Linked DNA regions of Homo sapiens: region 2 is linked to region 1. The links come from fine-mapping of genetic effects on gene expression. Tissue or cell type: whole blood. Region 1 holds a variant in brackets; the other region holds the start of a gene. All regions are shown on one strand. Distances are from middle to middle.

Region 1 (8,104 bases):
GAAATTGGAGGTCAACTTTAACTTTCCCTTTTTATAGCTGATTTTATTTTATTTTCCATAAAGGCCTAAAGACTTCTTCATGTTTGAAGTTTTATAGCTTGTTTCCAATATGTCCCAGTGTAAAACTTTTGGTATCAATTCTTTTTTGGGACATGCTCTTTTAATCCCAACTTCAATTATTTATCTCAAGGAAATTTCCTTAAATCTTCAAATATATCTTCATTCTATTTTTGAGGTCTATACGTCAGAGGCACCAATTATACTTATGTTGGATGGGCTGAATAGCTTCTATATCTAGTAGCTTCCCTGTAATGCTTTAATCATAAGGTTTATCTGTATTACCTGTAATGATCTCAGTCATTCTCTCTATGAAAATAATATAATTTCCTCCCTATTTATTCTGCCTCTGACTGTTTCTATACATTATGCAGTGTATTGCTTTGACACTCATCTTGTTTTCTTACTCTTTCATTTTAACATCTTATCTTTAAACTCTGATTACCTGGAATTCACATTAAGTGATTCTCAGCATCAAGCAATTGTCAGGAATTTCTTTCTGTTCCTTGAATTATGTTTTCTTTGTATTTTACTATTTTCATTTCTAACTTTCTGTTATGGACTAAATTGTATCCCCTCCCTGCCCCCAAATTTACATGGTGAAGCCCTAACTTCCAGGACCACAGAACATGTATTAGGACACAGGGTCTTTCAAGAAGTCAGTAAGTTAAAATGAGGTCATTAGGGTGGGCCTCTATCCAATATGAATGGTATCCTTACACAAAGAGGACATATGGATACAGACAGGTACAGAGGGAAGACCACGTGAAGACACAGGCCATCTACAGCCAAGGAGAGAAGTTTCAGAAAAACCAATGCTGCTGAGACCTTGACCTTGAATTTCTAGCCTCCAGAACTGTGAGAATATACATTTCTGTTATTTAAGGCATCCAGACTGTGGTATGTTACTAAGACAGTCTTAGCAAACTAATACACCCTCACTCCTTTTTTTTTTTTTTTTTTTTTTGAGACGGAGTTTCGCTCTGTCACCCAGGCTGGAGTACAGTGGTGCCATCTTGGCTCACTGCAAGCTCTGCCTCCCGGGTTGACGCCATTCTCCTGCCTCAGCCTCCCGAGTAGCTGGGACTACATGCGCCTGCCACCACGCCTGGCTAATTTTTTGTGTTTTTAGTAGAAACGGGGTTTCACTATGTTAGCTAGGATGGTCTCGATCTCCTGACCTCATGATCCGCCCGCCTCGGCCTCCCAAAGTGCTGGGATTACAGGCGTGAGCCACCGTGCCTGGCCTCACTCCTTTTCTTAATTTAATTTCAAACTATTCTTATTTTGCTGCAGTATTTTGGCACAGTGGCCATGCAGTTTGTTTTCATCTTGCTCATGCTTGAGCGTGGCAGTCGAGATACTCCATTTCCTATGATGCCGTTTGGGTGAATTATGGTCTTTCTTTCCATTGCATCTGAGATCAGTTAATGTTTCCCTTTGGGTTAGATATTTGGATTCTATTCTCTTTTTTGTAGCATGGAAACTAGCTGCAGCCTGGAGCGATCGTCTGCTTTGGGGTTTCTTCCCCAGTTCACCTCCGTCTGTCCCTCCCTTTACTCTTCCCAGTCTTCCTGGGAGCCATTTTCACTACCCTAGGTTGGAAAACGAAGAAAATAAAGCAACCCACTCTTTTTTTTTTCCTCCAGGTTTAGTAATGGAGGAGTTCACAGAATTTTTTTCCCTCTCATCACAGGCTTCTTAGGGTGAATGTGTGTGTGGTTAGGAGGGGAGGCAGGTGAGGAGCCCAGCTCCACTGCCCCCTCTGCTCTCCACCTGGAAAGTGGGCAGGACTGTGAGTAAATTACACATCCAAGCGTTTATTTACTGGCCATTCCAATGAAACCTTTGCTTTTTGTGGTTACCAGAATGCTAATTCAAATTAATTCTAAAAATAATCAGTACTGGGGTCGGGGGAATAGATAGCAGGAGTCCAAGCAGTGGCCATCATCCAAAAGAACTCACTGAAGAAGGTAGGGAGGAAAATTAAATTTAAGTGGTCATATCCCTCTATACTTGATTTTAAATTCTGCTTCTTGTTTCATCTGCTAGGGGAGAAATTTCCACATGCTAGAAGGTAAATCTTACATTAATCATTCTGCAGAAGAGTGAGTGGCTGGTGAATAAACACCTTGTCCTCTGCCCTACAGAACTTTCGAGTGCCCTTAACACTGGACACAGGGGAGCCTGGAGCAGGTGCCAGTTTGAAGGAGGAGGTGGAAGGAGATCACAGCTCTCCAAAGCCAAGCTCTTGCTGTTAAGCCCGAGTCTCTTTGGGGAACTCCCGGGTCCTCATATCAGATTGTCATCAACATCTGTTTTAAGAGGGAAACAGACATTTTCTGACACTCTGGATGTCTTCAGGGGCTCTTAGTGCTCTTTTGAAGCTGCGGTGTGCCCTCCCCACAGCCCCAATTCTAAGAAAACAAGGAGAGCAAAAATGCCTCCTGGGAGAGTCAGTACATTTCCTAAGTAGGCAGTAGTTTTAGAGTTGTTGCCAAATTTCATAAATGTCATGTTAAAAATAATGAATGGCACCTCTGGAAAATTTGGAAAAACAAGAAAACTTCCAGTCAGTAGAATCAATTAAGAACATACCTCTCCTTTTTCTCTGAATGAAAAACCCCCATCAATGTAATAGGAAACCATGAATAACATCCTAAGCCATATTTTAATAGAATTTTTCCCTCAGATATCAACCGTCCCCCATCAGGAATGTACTGCTTTTGGTGAATGTTTGCGTAAAAGGGAAGTGAGTGATCCTCCAGGCAGGTCTACCTCTTCCTGCTTGCCATTCCATATTGTCTCCCTGCTCTGTCTCCCTCCTGTCCTGCAATGGTCCAAATGGACACATTTACAAGAATAAAATAACATCAAAGAAAAGCCGACAAACCCGGAAAAAAGTAGCTAAGAAGGCAGACAACACATGAAATTGAAGCAACTGAAGGGCTAACATTTATTGAGCCCCTCCTTTTTTGCCATGATCTTTGATATGTGCTTTAAATTAAAAAAGTGAAATAGGCAGTTTCCTAATTTTTTAAACTGATAATACATTACAATAGAGTAGGATATGTTTTTTTAAAATAATAGCATATTAAGATCATCTATAATTTAAGTAAACAAAATTTGGGTAAAATCCAGGAGTTTAAAATCATTTTGTAATCAACTTTGAAATGCATTGGTTTTTTTAAAGTAATGTTTTTAAAAACTGAAAATCAGGACTCTTGAAAATGTATAAGAAAAATCAGTCAATTTGTAAACGTCTTCCCCACAATTCTCCCTCCGGGTTTTCGCTTTCTCCCTTCTCACAAGCACCCCACTCATGTCTCTGCCTATTGCCCCTAATTCCGGAAGCCAGCACTGGTATATTCAGGTATGGCAGAGGGCATCAAGCACACCTGGCATGGCCTCCCCAAAGCAACAGGAGGAAGTAGGGGAGGTGCTGTTTCCCAGCACTGCGGTAGCCCTTTGGTGGAAAGTTAGGTTTCCTAATCAGCTCAGGAGGGTGCAACAGGCAACGAGACAGGTCAATCCTTTCACTTCAGGCTGAATATGATGCTGGAATTCCCAAGACCTTAACTTTGCACATTTTGAAGAAAGTGGGGCTTTACATGCGTTCATATCCTCTACTGGGCCTCTTTCTGGCCACCAGACATGCGGTTAGCAAAATGACAAGCAGTCCTGTGATACTCAGGCCCATGGCCACAGGGATTTCTCTCCTGTTTCTGTCACTGAAGCATTCATCCGCTGTAATTGAAGTCAGAGTAACAAGTGTTACAGACTGGCCACAAATGCTGGGAAGTGGCACTGCCACATCTGCCTCAGCTTTGGAGAAAAGAAGACAGAGGGGAAGATGGAGCTGTTGGGGCTCAGACAACAGTGGGTGAAAACGAGAGGGAAAGGGTCAATACAGTGGATCTGACACGTGTAGCACTGGTAATTAGTTAGGGAGCTTATTAAATTGCAGATGCCCAGACACATGCCCAAGAAATGATAATTCAGTGGGTCTGAGCTGAGGCCAGGGGAATTCTGATGCTGCTTCCAGGCAGATCCAACTTT[G/A]AGAAAATGCTAGTTTGGCCTAGAGGGTTGTGATCAGAGTTATGTCTTGACTCTCAAACTAGAGTAATTCCCGGAGCCATATTCTCCAACTCTAGTAATAGTTTGAGACAGAGTCTCACTGTGTCACCCAGGCCAGAATGCAGTGACACAATCTCGGCTCACTGCAACCTCCGCCTCCTGATTTCAAGTGATTTTTATCCCTCAGCCTCCCGAGTAGCTGGGATTACAGGCATGTACCACCATGCCGGGCTAGTTTTTTGTATGTTTAGTAGAGATGGGGTTTTGCTATGTTGGCCAGGCTGGTCTCATAGTCCTGGCCTCAAGTGATCCACCTGCCTTGGCCTCCCAAAGTGCTGGGATTACAGGAGTCAGCCAACACGCCCAGTCCTAACTCTGTGTTTCTTACAGGGGCTGCTCAGATAGCTTGGGGCTCCTAAATCAGCATAATAAACAGCAAAAGAAAAGGACAGCAAAAACCCTAAAACTCAATAAACAAAACACAATGTTTGCAGGCTCCAGGATTTTAGGGAGGAGGAGATTTTAGGAGTCAGGAGTCTACTGTTTGGGATGACCATTATCTTTTACAAGGCTCAGCTTTGACACTTGCTGGATTCCTCTCCAGTTCTTCGATCCCCTGTTTAAAAATCGCCTATCACTCAAGACTTCTTTAGTCCACCCTCTCATCACCAATGCTGTCAGTCACAACTTCCTCTGGGCTCCCATAACCCTTTGCACATGTGTCTTTTAAACACCATATAGTATGGTAACTTGCTCCTCTTTTCCCCCTTCTCTTACTCTCTAGTAGAAAATCCTATTTACAGAATGACATACCTCTTCACATTTGAGCATCTTTAGTGAAATTTGAAGTGCAAAGACTAAGAAGATGGCGTTGAGTTGATACGGTGACAGTGGGAGAACAAGGGGAACATTTTGGAAGTGGAATTGTTAGGGCTTTGTGACTATTTGTATGAGAGGGTGCTGGAGGGAGAGGAGTTAAGGAGAACTCTGAAGTCTGTTGTTTGGAAAACTATCCAGTTAATGATGGTTTTAAGAAAAAAAAAAATGTAAAGACAAGCGAGCTTTTCTATGCATCCCTGTGAACACTGGCGTGCACTGCTGAAACGTTTTATTTCCTACCTCTGCCACTAAGAAGTTTCCCAGACCTGATCACTTCCTGCTTCATAGAGGTTCTGAAGGGGAAGAAGAGCAAGTGTGTACCTTTTTTTAAGATCACACGATTACAGAAGTTTTTCAAACCTTCATAATGATTGTAAAAGAAAGAAATAGTTTTCCAACACTAGCATTTTTGAGAGTGGATGACAAATGGGGCCAACCTCTACTGGCAAATTCTCATATGACTGTGGGACTCCGACAAAGCCTACAGAAACCAGGGGACCCAAGGCAAGCAATGGCCAGTCCTTCCTCTGCCAAATGCTTCCCACTGAGTACATGAGGAGAAGTTTTCTGCTACACACATCTGCAATTTCATGATGGAACCCAAAGCAAAATCAGATTCATATTGTAGACATTTAAAATACGGCTAAACTTCTAGCTAAATCTATTTTTGATAACTGGGAAGTACTCATCACATTTTTTAGTTATTATGAGAGGGATGTTTTAGAAATTGAAGTACATGACCCTCCTGGTCATATGTAGAAATCCTCGTAACACTGTTTTCCTGGAAGGGAGAAGAGGGCTTTTTCTGGCATATGACTCTCCTGGTCATAGGCAGAAATCCTTATAACAATGTGTTCCTGGAAGGGAGAAGAGGGCTTTTCTGGAAAGTCACCCTGGTCTGCTCTTGGCCCTTGCCCAGGGACCTGTTTTCCTCCAGGGCAGTCATCAGGCAAGCTCTGCCTGTGATGGTCAGAACTCAAGGCAGAAGTTAGAGGGAAACTAAAACTGACTATGAGGAAACACTGTTGGGTGTGACAGCTTATAACTGGAGACGAGGGGCTCCAACAGCTTGTAATTGAGATGAGGGGGTCCAACAGAGTTTCCTTCTATTTTGAATTGCTGCATCTTGCTCTTTTCCCTCTGCAGGTGGGGAAGAAACTATTCTGAAATCTTGATTTCAGACATTACTGATACTCAGGATCTTTAAAGTGTTCTCCAAACATATCTGAATTTACACCCAACAGGACATAAAGGGAAGTCGCAGGTGGTATTTCTGTTGTTTTGATTGAGCGCGTGAGTGTTTAAATGAGTAAGAATGTGCGTGAGTCGAAGAGAGTGCAACCCGCTGCGGGACAGCCGTGACTGGGTGGGTGCAGGTGCCTGATTCTGAGGTGGCCAGAGGAGCCTGGCCCTGTGAGCTATGTGGAATCACACCATCCCAGGAAGCTCATGAGATGCTTGCTCCTTCGACAGCTGCAGACAGAAAACACTTTGGATCTACCCTGGGGTCTCTAAAGTGTATGTTTGCAACCTGATCGACCCTTAACTTACCATTTCCAAAGTGGTCATCTTCAAAATCAAAGGCTTGAAGTTGGACATCGGTTGTTTTCACCTGCAGGTGGGCTGACAACTGGAGGCTCTGTTCACTCACGCACTTGAAGGAATGCCCGACTGCTGTCTGGAACATCACCACCGCATGTTTGATTCCTTGGTAAATTGTCTCTGAAAAGGTGACAGATAGATGCATAAGAGTCCTGAGATGTAACCGCTGAGCTCCAGCTGTGGCCGGGCTGCCTGTGCACAGCTAAATGGCCTTCCTTCCTTCCGAGGGGCTTTCTGGGGGTTCTGCCACCTTCTCCCCATGAAAAAACACCCTGGTGCGGTTTGGAGACTTTTTCAGCTGCTCTGTTTGGGGTATAAGGGAGACACCTCACATAAACTGGAATGCGCAAATAATGAAATGAGAACTTTTGAGAATGTGTTCTTTGGTTACTTTAAATCATTGGGGACAGAGTGGGTGGGAACTAGTCAGTACTTGGGGGCTACAGAGAGGCGCCTCCAAAATTTTAGAGATAAAAGAAGATTGCTTTCTGAGACTTAGAAAGTCACAGAACCCTTAATGAATCAGTGAAGGGACATGCAGTCAGCAAATGCTTATCACCAGGCTGAATGTATTAGATGAGCAGGGTCAAGAACTCATTAGGGGCCAGGCGCGGTGGCTCACGCCTGTAATCCCAGCACTTTGGGAGGCCGAGGCGGTCAGATCACCTGAGGTCGGGAGTTCGAGACCAGCCTGACCAACATGGAGAAACCCCATCTCTACTAAGAATACAAAATTAGCTGGGCGCGGTGGCACATGCCTGTAATCCCAGCTACTCGGGAGGCTGAGGCAGGAGAATCGCTTGAACCCAGGAGGTGGAGGTTGTGTTGAGCCGAGATTGTGCCATTGCACTCCAGCCTGGGCAACAACAGTGAAACTCCGTTTCAGAAAAAAAAAAAAAAAAACAACTCATTAGGAGGGGTTGTTGCATCCATCCACAGAAACAGAGAGAAGGGAGAAGCCCATCTCTTCCCTTCTGATCGCCACCTGGGGAGAGAAACCTGCCTAAGGACTGGCCCTCTCTTATGAAAGGTACACCCTGTTCAAGGAAGTGGAGGCTTCCAGGCAGATGAAGTTAAACATTTTAATCATTGAGGCCAGGCATGGTGGCACACACCTGTGGTCCCAAGTACTTGGGAGGCTGAGGTGGGAGGATCATTTGAGCCCAGGAGTTCGAGGTTGCAGTGAGCTATGATCATGCCACCACACTCCAGCCTGGGACACAGAGCAAGAATGTCTCTAAAATAAATAAATAAATAAGTAGGCCGGGCATGGTGGTTGGTGGTTCATGCCTGTAATCCCAGCACTTTGGGAGGCTGAGGCAGGCAGATCACTTGAGGTCTGGAGTTTGAGACCAGCCTGGCCAATGTGGTGAAACCCTGCCTCTACTAAAAATACAAAAATTAGCCAGGCATGGAGGTGGGCACATGCAATCCCAGCTACTCAGGGAGGCTGAGGCAGGAGAATCTCTTGAATCCGAGGGGTGGAGGT
Region 2 (8,104 bases), 34 kb before region 1:
AGCTTTTTTGAAACCTTTTTGGCTACAACTCACAATACAAACTACCCAGGACACACACTTAATGAAAACAGATGTTTTGTTAAAAATGACTCATTCTGCCCTGGCCAGGCACGGTGGCTCACACCTGTAATCCCAGCACTTTGGGAAGCCGAGGCAAGCAGATCATGAGGTCAGGAGATTGAGGCCATCCTGGCTAACACGGTGAAACCCTGTCTCTACTGAAAACACAAAAAATTAGCCGGGCGTCATGGCGGGCACCTGTAGTCCCAGCTACTCGGGAGGCTGAGGCAGGAGAATGGCGTGAACCCAGGAGGCAGAGCTTGCAGTGAGCCGAGACTGGGCCACTGCACTCCAGCCTGGGTGACAGAGCGAGACTCCGTCTCAAAAAAAAAAACAAAAACAAAAAGAACAAAACTCTTTTGGTTCTTTCAGTTGTATCCTATTTTATTAAAATATGCTGGTCAATCTACAGTTTGAAAAATACCAATCAAGTTTAAACATGAGACATGTTTAAAAAGTAAGACCAGAGAAATAAACGGAAGTTAAACAGGGGCAACAGAAAGAATGTTGGCTGTGGGACCAGAAAAGCTGCATTCTCATCCGAGTCCCTCCAATGACCAGCTTGCCCAGGGTCGAGTCACTTTACATCAGTGTTTCTCCAACTTTTTTTTCATTATTACTCTCCTAATGAGAAAACTTTTAAAAGATTTTATTCCTTGTAGGAAGGGTGGGGTAAGGTTGAGCTTTGGAAAGCCGTAAACCATGACAAAATCTAAGATTTCCTGGCTCTCCTAAGAATCAATTTCCACCCTTTAGCGGTGGTATCATCCCAGTTGAGGATGCAAGATTTAATAGCTTGGGCTTCAGTGTTCTCACACACGAGATGAGACTATAAGAGGTGATCTTGAAGGTACCTCTCAGATTTAAAAGTACTATACAATTCTATTCCAAGTCCTTGTATTTAAAAAAATGGAGAAATGGGGAGACAAAATGACTTGAGGTATTTTAATGAGGTAGAAGTCTCAACAATTTTTAAGTTTCGTGATACCTGTGTATAAAATAAAGTAACCAAGAGCTGACAGAAAACAGGCCAGATTCACTTTAGGAACAAAAAAGTATAACGTCTATTAAGTTTCAGCTAAAGAGGATAAGTGGGCTGGGTGCAGTGGCTCACGCCTGTAATCCTAGCAATTTGAGAGGCTGAGGTGGGGGGATTACCTGAGGTCAGGAGTTCGAGACCAGCCTGGCCAACATGGTGAAACCCCATCTCTACTAACAATACAAAAATTAGCCAGGTGTGGTGGTGCGCACCTGTAATCTCAGCTACTTGGGAGGCTGAGGCAGGAGTATCACTTGAACTTGGGAGGTGGAGGTTGCAGTGAGCCAAGATCGTGCCACTACATTCCAGCCTGGGTGACAGAGTGAGACTCCATCTCAAAAAAAAAAATAAATAAATAAATAAAAAGCATATGCAGGGAAACAAACAAATTACAGAAGCAATTCCACCTATCTTTTTGTCTATACCTGGAAGATGTGGTTATAAAGGACTAACTAACCATTTTAGATTATTCACAAAGCACAAGATAAAAGCACAGCGTGTGCATTAGAAACTATGTAACTAGGCAGTAGTATATACATATTATGTATATGACTATGTAGTTGAGCAGGACTAGTATTTCACTGGAGCGGAGATGCAGTAGACATCTACACATCTATATGCGTCTATACACTCATTGCCCTACAATGCACACTCAGATGCTGCCATCCATGAGGAGCTGCTGGGAAGACCCACAGCTTTGGCAGGAGAGTTCCGTGAGCTAGCTTCCTCACGAGGCTGCTGCTTTCCCACACCTTTCCATTTCAGCTGATGTTACCTTCTTGATCCTGAAGGAGGGGGATCATCTTTCCTGATCTTTATGAGGTATTTTCTAGCTCATAGCATCGTCTTCCCTTTACATTCTTCAGATAGGCTTCTGATAAGTTTCAAGGCCTATTCTGGGCAGATGTATCTATTAAATGGTTGCTTGTTGGTAAAGCTAGCTTAAGACTGATTCGGTTTCAAGGCTACTGTTGACCTAAAGCTTTCTTTTGCAATCTTCTAGTGAAGACAGAAGAAGGGAGAGAGGGAAAAAGAGGGAGAAAGAGACAGAGATCCCACTTAACTGTAATCCACTATCCCAACAATGTTCTGATCATCTATTCCATTTTTCACAATTATCTAAGCTGCAACTTAAAAGCAATGGCTTAAACAAGATTAAGAAGCTGCTTCCCCGGAGCTTGCAGTGAGCCGAGATTGCGCCACTGCAGTCCGCAGTCCGGCCTGGGCGACAGAGCGAGACTCCGTCTCAAAAAAAAAAAAAGAAGCTGCTTCCCTGATTCAAGGTAGCTCTATACCAGCTTATTGTCATGTCTATAATTCTGCCACCAGAGATTATTTTCTGTGAGCTACTAAAGATTCATAACATAAAAATAATGTAAACTATCTGTGCTGTTAAGATTTTTTTGTTTTTGTTTTATTTGAGATGGGATGTCACCCAGGATGGAGTACAGTGGTGTGATCATGGCTCACTACGGCCTGGAACCCCTGGACTCAGGCCGTCCTCGCCCTCCTCATCCTCCCAAGTAGCTGTGACTACAAGTGTGTGCCACTACGCCTGGCTAATTTTTTAATGTTTTGTAGAGATGAAGCCTCACTGTGTTGCCCAGGCTGGTCTTGAACTCTTGAACTCAAGCAATCCTCCCACCTTGGATCCCACAGTGCTGAGAAACTGCTGAAAATACAGGCATGAACCAAGTCTCCTGGCAAAGAGTTTTACTTCTATAAGCCATTAACAACTCTAACACTCTCCAGAGTGACATACTTGAGGATAGTTCTTTAGACAATAGCTAAGCTTTGAAAGGGAAGACAGGAAATGGGTCTATGGTACTATCCTGAAGAGCCCTGGAGGCCTAAGAAAAGAAAAACCAGAAGAACAAGAAGAACATTAACATTACTTACACCAACTTTTTTTTTTATTTTTTTATTTTTTATTTGAGACGGAGTCTTACTCTGTCGCCCAGGCTGGAGTGCAGTGGCGTGATCTTAGCTCACTGCAAGCTCCGCCTCCTGGGTTCACACCATTCTCCTGCCTCAGCCTCCCGAGTAGCTGGGACTAACAGGCGGGACTATAGGCGCGTGTCACCACGCCCGGCTAAATTTTTTGTATTTTTTAGTACAGACGGGGTTTCACCGTGTTATCCAGGTTGGTCTCGATCTCCTGACCTCGTGATCTGCCCGCCTCGGCGTCCCAAAGTGCTGCGATTACAGGCGTGAGCTACCGCGCCCCGCCAACTTCCAACAACTTTCTTATGTTTCTCTGGGGCACTCCTACAATTAAGTAACTAAAAAGGGCATCTACAATATTTCTGGAAAATAAAAGCAAGCAAACGTTCATATAAATGGTTGAGTTTGCATTTATAGACTGATCTTATGTACCAGATTGTGCTTAAACCTCATTCCATGAATTAATTCATTTAGTTTTCACAACCCAAGGTACTCGTATCATCTCCAAGGTGAGGAAATTAAAGAAGAAATATTAAGTAACTTACCCAAAGTCACACACCTAGTGAGTAGCTAACTAAGACCTCAGCCTTGACTGCAGAGTCTGTGCCCTTGAACACTAAACTGTCAATCTTTCCAGAATGATGAAGGATGATAACGATGAAGCAAAAGAAGACAAAGAAGCAAAGCTATCTACAAGCCTGAGGGTTTTTTCACTGCCAGAGTTATTGCCACCAAAGCTTAGAGCTCAAAATTTGAAACAGAGCTGGAGTCAGGTGAGCTAGACTGAGTCATCTGATAGCGTTGTTCAAACTTGGGTACAAGAGTTTTTGACAAAATAATTTCCCAGCTCTGTGGAAGGTACATTTGCTCTTCTTGACAACTTCACTCTTCTAACAATGAGAAGGAACTCCAGGAGTCTTTCTCTGAACTGGACACCTGATGGGGCACAGCTGAACTGAAAAATGGCTTTGAGGGCATCCCGGCCCCATTTCTTACTAGCTGTGTTTCGTTGAGGAAGTCGTTGATCCCTTTGGGCTTCCCCGGAACCGGATTATAACAACGCTCCCACCTAAGGGGTGCTGCGAAAGCCCGATGTAAACGGCTACGAGCTGCAGCGACGGCGAGGGGAGCCTGGAGGATGGCGGGCCCAGTCCTCAGAAATGGAAAAACAGAAGCCAAAGGCGCGCTGAAGCGTGGATGTGCGGAAGCGGGGAGAAAGGGAAGGGCTGGTGGGGATGTCTTCCTCCCGACGCCGTGACTGCCGGCAGAACCCCTCCGAAAGTGCCTGGGGTTTTCCTACCGTCCTCCCCACACCGACCCTGGGTTCCGCCGCACCTCCCACCGCTCACGCGGGTCCGTGCACCCCTCGCTCCCGCCTCTGCCCACTGAGCCATGGCCCCTCCACCCACCTCGGCGGCAGGAGCAGGCTCGGGAGACGATGCCACCGGTTCCTCTCCGCCGCCACCAGCAGCACCGACACCGCAGAGGCCGCCGCCATGTCCCTGGAGCCCGGCCACTCCGTGACTCCCCAGTACAGAGGCAGCTGCGTCCCACACGCCAAACCCGTTCCTCCACTACGAAGCCTCGTGACCCCCGCCGGCCACCGTCGGAGCCTGAGCCTACCTTTGGGCTGATCCAAGAATGTGAGGGCGTCTCCACGAACACCAATCAAAGACCAGAGCCCGGCTTCAGTAGCGACGATTGGGCAGTCTGGCCACGTGCTCGTGGGGGTGTGGCCTTTGTTTCTGCGTCCCCTGGGGCCTGCTCTGACTAAGGCAAGGGTTTTCTCCATCCTCCCCCTCTTGGTTGCCTGTCACTGTTTCTTCCTGCATCCCGTGGGGTTTCTTCGCTCTCGTCACCTTCTGGGAGAAGAACCCTGGGGAAGAAGCCAAATGCGGATGGACAGCAGGATACACAATTCTCTAGTGCTCTCAGGGATGAAAAAATAAATAAGCTAAAGTGAAAATCTTTAAACCACCTGAGCTTAAAACAGGTATTCTAACTGACTATTGGGAAAAAGAGGAAGTCAAAGAGCAAACTGAGGAACATCTAGAGAATAAAGAAACTGTAAACACTACATGTAGATGCTTCATGAGGAAAGCAGGAGGGAGAAATTAGGGAAGATAAAGGAATAAATAAATGAATTCAGGAAACCAGTGTCAAAGGACTAATAAACCCACAGGTTCACAAAAAATAAAATAGTTATCTAATCAGAAATAGAGAAAAATGCACATTTGACATGATTTAAAAAACAAGCAGGGGAAAATCACAGACACAGGAAACAAATTATAGATTTGTAAGATGCTAATTTTGCTTAACTTCAAGTGAACTTAAAACTCTGGATGAAATGGATGATGTTACAAGAAAATACAATTTATCAAAATAGATCCTGGAAGAGACAAAATTTAAGCAAACCGTTACCACAGAAAAAATAGAGAAGTTTATCAAAGAACTATCCTTGCTACCACCATGGCCCACTTTCACCTTCACCTTCACCCCTAAAAGTTACAAAAGCCCTCCATGTCTTGCAAGAAAATTCCACACAAATGAGTAATTGACTCAAATGCTATTAATTCTGTCCCAGAGCACAAAAAAGATGGAAGTCTTCCAAACTCTTTTTAAAAAGTAAACATAACTTTGATACCAAAATCAACAAAGATATCACGCACACACACACGACAGACCAATTTCACATGTAAGTATCAGTGGAAAAATTCTAAATAAAATATTAACTACGCTGGGTGCTGTGGCTCATGTCTTGTAACCCCCCATTGAGATGTGACAGCGTGCTGGCAGTCCTCAGAACCCTCGCTTGCTCTCGGCACCTCCCCTGCCTGGGCTCCCACTTTGGTGGCATTTGAGGAGCCCTTCAGTCCCCCACTGCACTGTGGGAGCCCCTTTCTGGGCTGGCCAAGGCCGGAGCCCACTCCCTCAGCTTGCAGGGAGGTGTGGAGGGAGAGACACGAGCGGGAACTGGGGCTGTGTGCGGCACTTGCGGGCCAGCTGGAGTTCCGGGTGGGCGTGGGCTTGGTGGGCCCCGCACTCGGAACAGCCAGCCAGCCCTGCTGACCCCGGGCAATGGGGGACTTAGCACCCGGGCCAGTGGCTGCGGAGGGTGTACTGAGTCCCCCAGCAGTGCTGGCCCACCGGCGCTGCGCTCGATTTCTCGCCGGGCCTTGGCTGCCTTCCCACGGGGCAGGGCTCGGGACCTGCAGCCCGCCATGCCTGAACCTCCCACCCACTCCATGGGCTCCTGTGCGGCCCAAGCCTCCCCGATGAGCGCCACCCCCTGCTCCACGGCGCCCAGTCCCATCGACCACCCAAGAGCTGAGGAATGCGAGCGCACGGCGGCGCAGGACTGGCAGGCAGCTCCACCTGCAGCCCCGGTGCGGGATCCACTAGGTGAAGCCAGCTGGGCTCCTGAGTCTGGTGGGGACGTGGAGAGTCTTTATATCTAGCTCAGGGATTGTAAATACACCAGTCAGCACCCTGTGTTTAGCTCAAGGTTTGTGAATGCACCAATCGACACTCTGTATCTAGCTGCTCTGGTGGGGCCTTGGAGAACCTGTGTGTCGAAACTCTGTATCTAACTAATCTGATGGGGACGTGGAGAACCTTTGTATCTAGCTCAGGGATTGTAAACGCACCAATCAGCACCCTGACAAAACAGGCCACTGGGCTCTACCAATCAGCAGGATGTGGGTGGGGCCAGATAAGAGAATAAAAGCAGGCTGCCCAAACCAGCATTGGCAACCTGCTCGGGTCCCATTCCACGCTGTGGAAGCTTTGTTCTTTCGCTCTTTGCAATAAATCTTGCTACTGCTCACTCTTTGGGTCCACGCTGCTTTTATGAGCTGTAACACTTATCACGAAGATCTGCAGCTTCACTCCTGAGCCCAGCGAGACCACGAGCCCACCGGGAGGAACGAACAACTCCGGACACGCTGCCTTAAGAGCTGTAACACTCACCGCGAAGGTCTGCAGCTTCACTCCTGAGCCAGTGAGACCACGAACCCACCAGAAGGAAGAAACTCCGAACACATCTGAACATCAGAAGGGACAGACTCCAGACGCGCCGCCTTAAGAGCTGTAACACTCACCGCGAGGGTGTGCAGCTTCATTCTTGAAGTCAGTGAGACCAAGAACCCACCAATTTCGGACACGCCATCACTTTGGGAGGCTGAGGTGGGCCTCCCAAACTGCTTAAGCCTAGGAGTTTGAGACCAGCCTGGGCAATATAGTGAGACCCGCATCTGCACAAACATTTTTTTAAAAAAACTGGGCGTAATGATGCACACTTGTAGTCCCAGCTACTCGGGAGACTGAGGCAGGATCACTTGAGCCCAGGAGTTTGAAGCTGCAATGAGCTCTTATCATGCCACTATACTCCAGCCTGGGTAACAGAGTGAGAGAATGTCTCCAAAAAAGAAGCAAAAAAAATAACTGAAGTATCCTGTAGCATGTGAAAAGAATAACACACTGTAAATAAGCAAGGTTTATTCCAGAAGTATAAGGATGATTCACTATTAAGAAATCAATTAATAAAATGAATATTAAGAGTTTAAAAGAGAAAAACTTATATTCACAGAGGCTTAATAGGTCATTGACAAAATCTGACCTTCATTCTAGATTTTAAAACTCAGTAATTCAAGAAGTGATTGGGACCAGTGATTAGCCCTCTGGAAAAAAAAGCTGGATCCCTGCTTACTTCTTACACCTAACACCAAAATATTCCAAGTAGATGAAAGATTAAATATAAAAGATGAAAGCATAAAAGTTCTAGAAGACATTATGGGAGGTCTTAGAGCAGAGAAAGTTTTTTTTTTTTTTTTTTTTTTTTTTTTTTTTTTTTTTTTTTTTTTGAGACGAAGTCTCTCTCTGTTGCCCAGGCTAGAGTGCAATGGCATGATCTCGGCTCACTGCAACCTCCACCTCCCAAGTTCAAATGATTCTCATGGCTCAGCCTCCCGAATAGCTAGGATTACAGGCATCCACTACTGCACCTAGCTCATTTTTTGTATTTTTAGTAGAGACGAGGTTTTGTGTCTGGAATTGGTGGGT

The links. PIP is the estimated chance that this variant, and not a neighbour inherited with it, causes the effect.
Region 2: it holds the start of MCCC1, and the variant in region 1 is fine-mapped to the expression of MCCC1 in whole blood (INTERVAL, PIP 0.93).

What each region holds. Positions count from the first base shown.
Region 1 is chr3:183,129,153-183,137,256 of GRCh38, forward strand. It overlaps LAMP3 (lysosomal associated membrane protein 3), which reads right to left. Exons shown (of 6, transcript NM_014398.4): 5 at 6,565-6,735. Among named protein-coding and RNA genes, the nearest start is that of LAMP3, 30 kb to the right of the region's middle. The variant G/A (reference allele first, on the strand shown) is at 4,117.
Region 2 is chr3:183,094,900-183,103,003 of GRCh38, forward strand. It overlaps MCCC1 (methylcrotonyl-CoA carboxylase subunit 1), which reads right to left and starts at 4,597. Exons shown (of 19, transcript NM_020166.5): 1 at 4,453-4,597. The coding sequence starts at 4,541. RefSeq lists an enhancer at 4,523-4,662.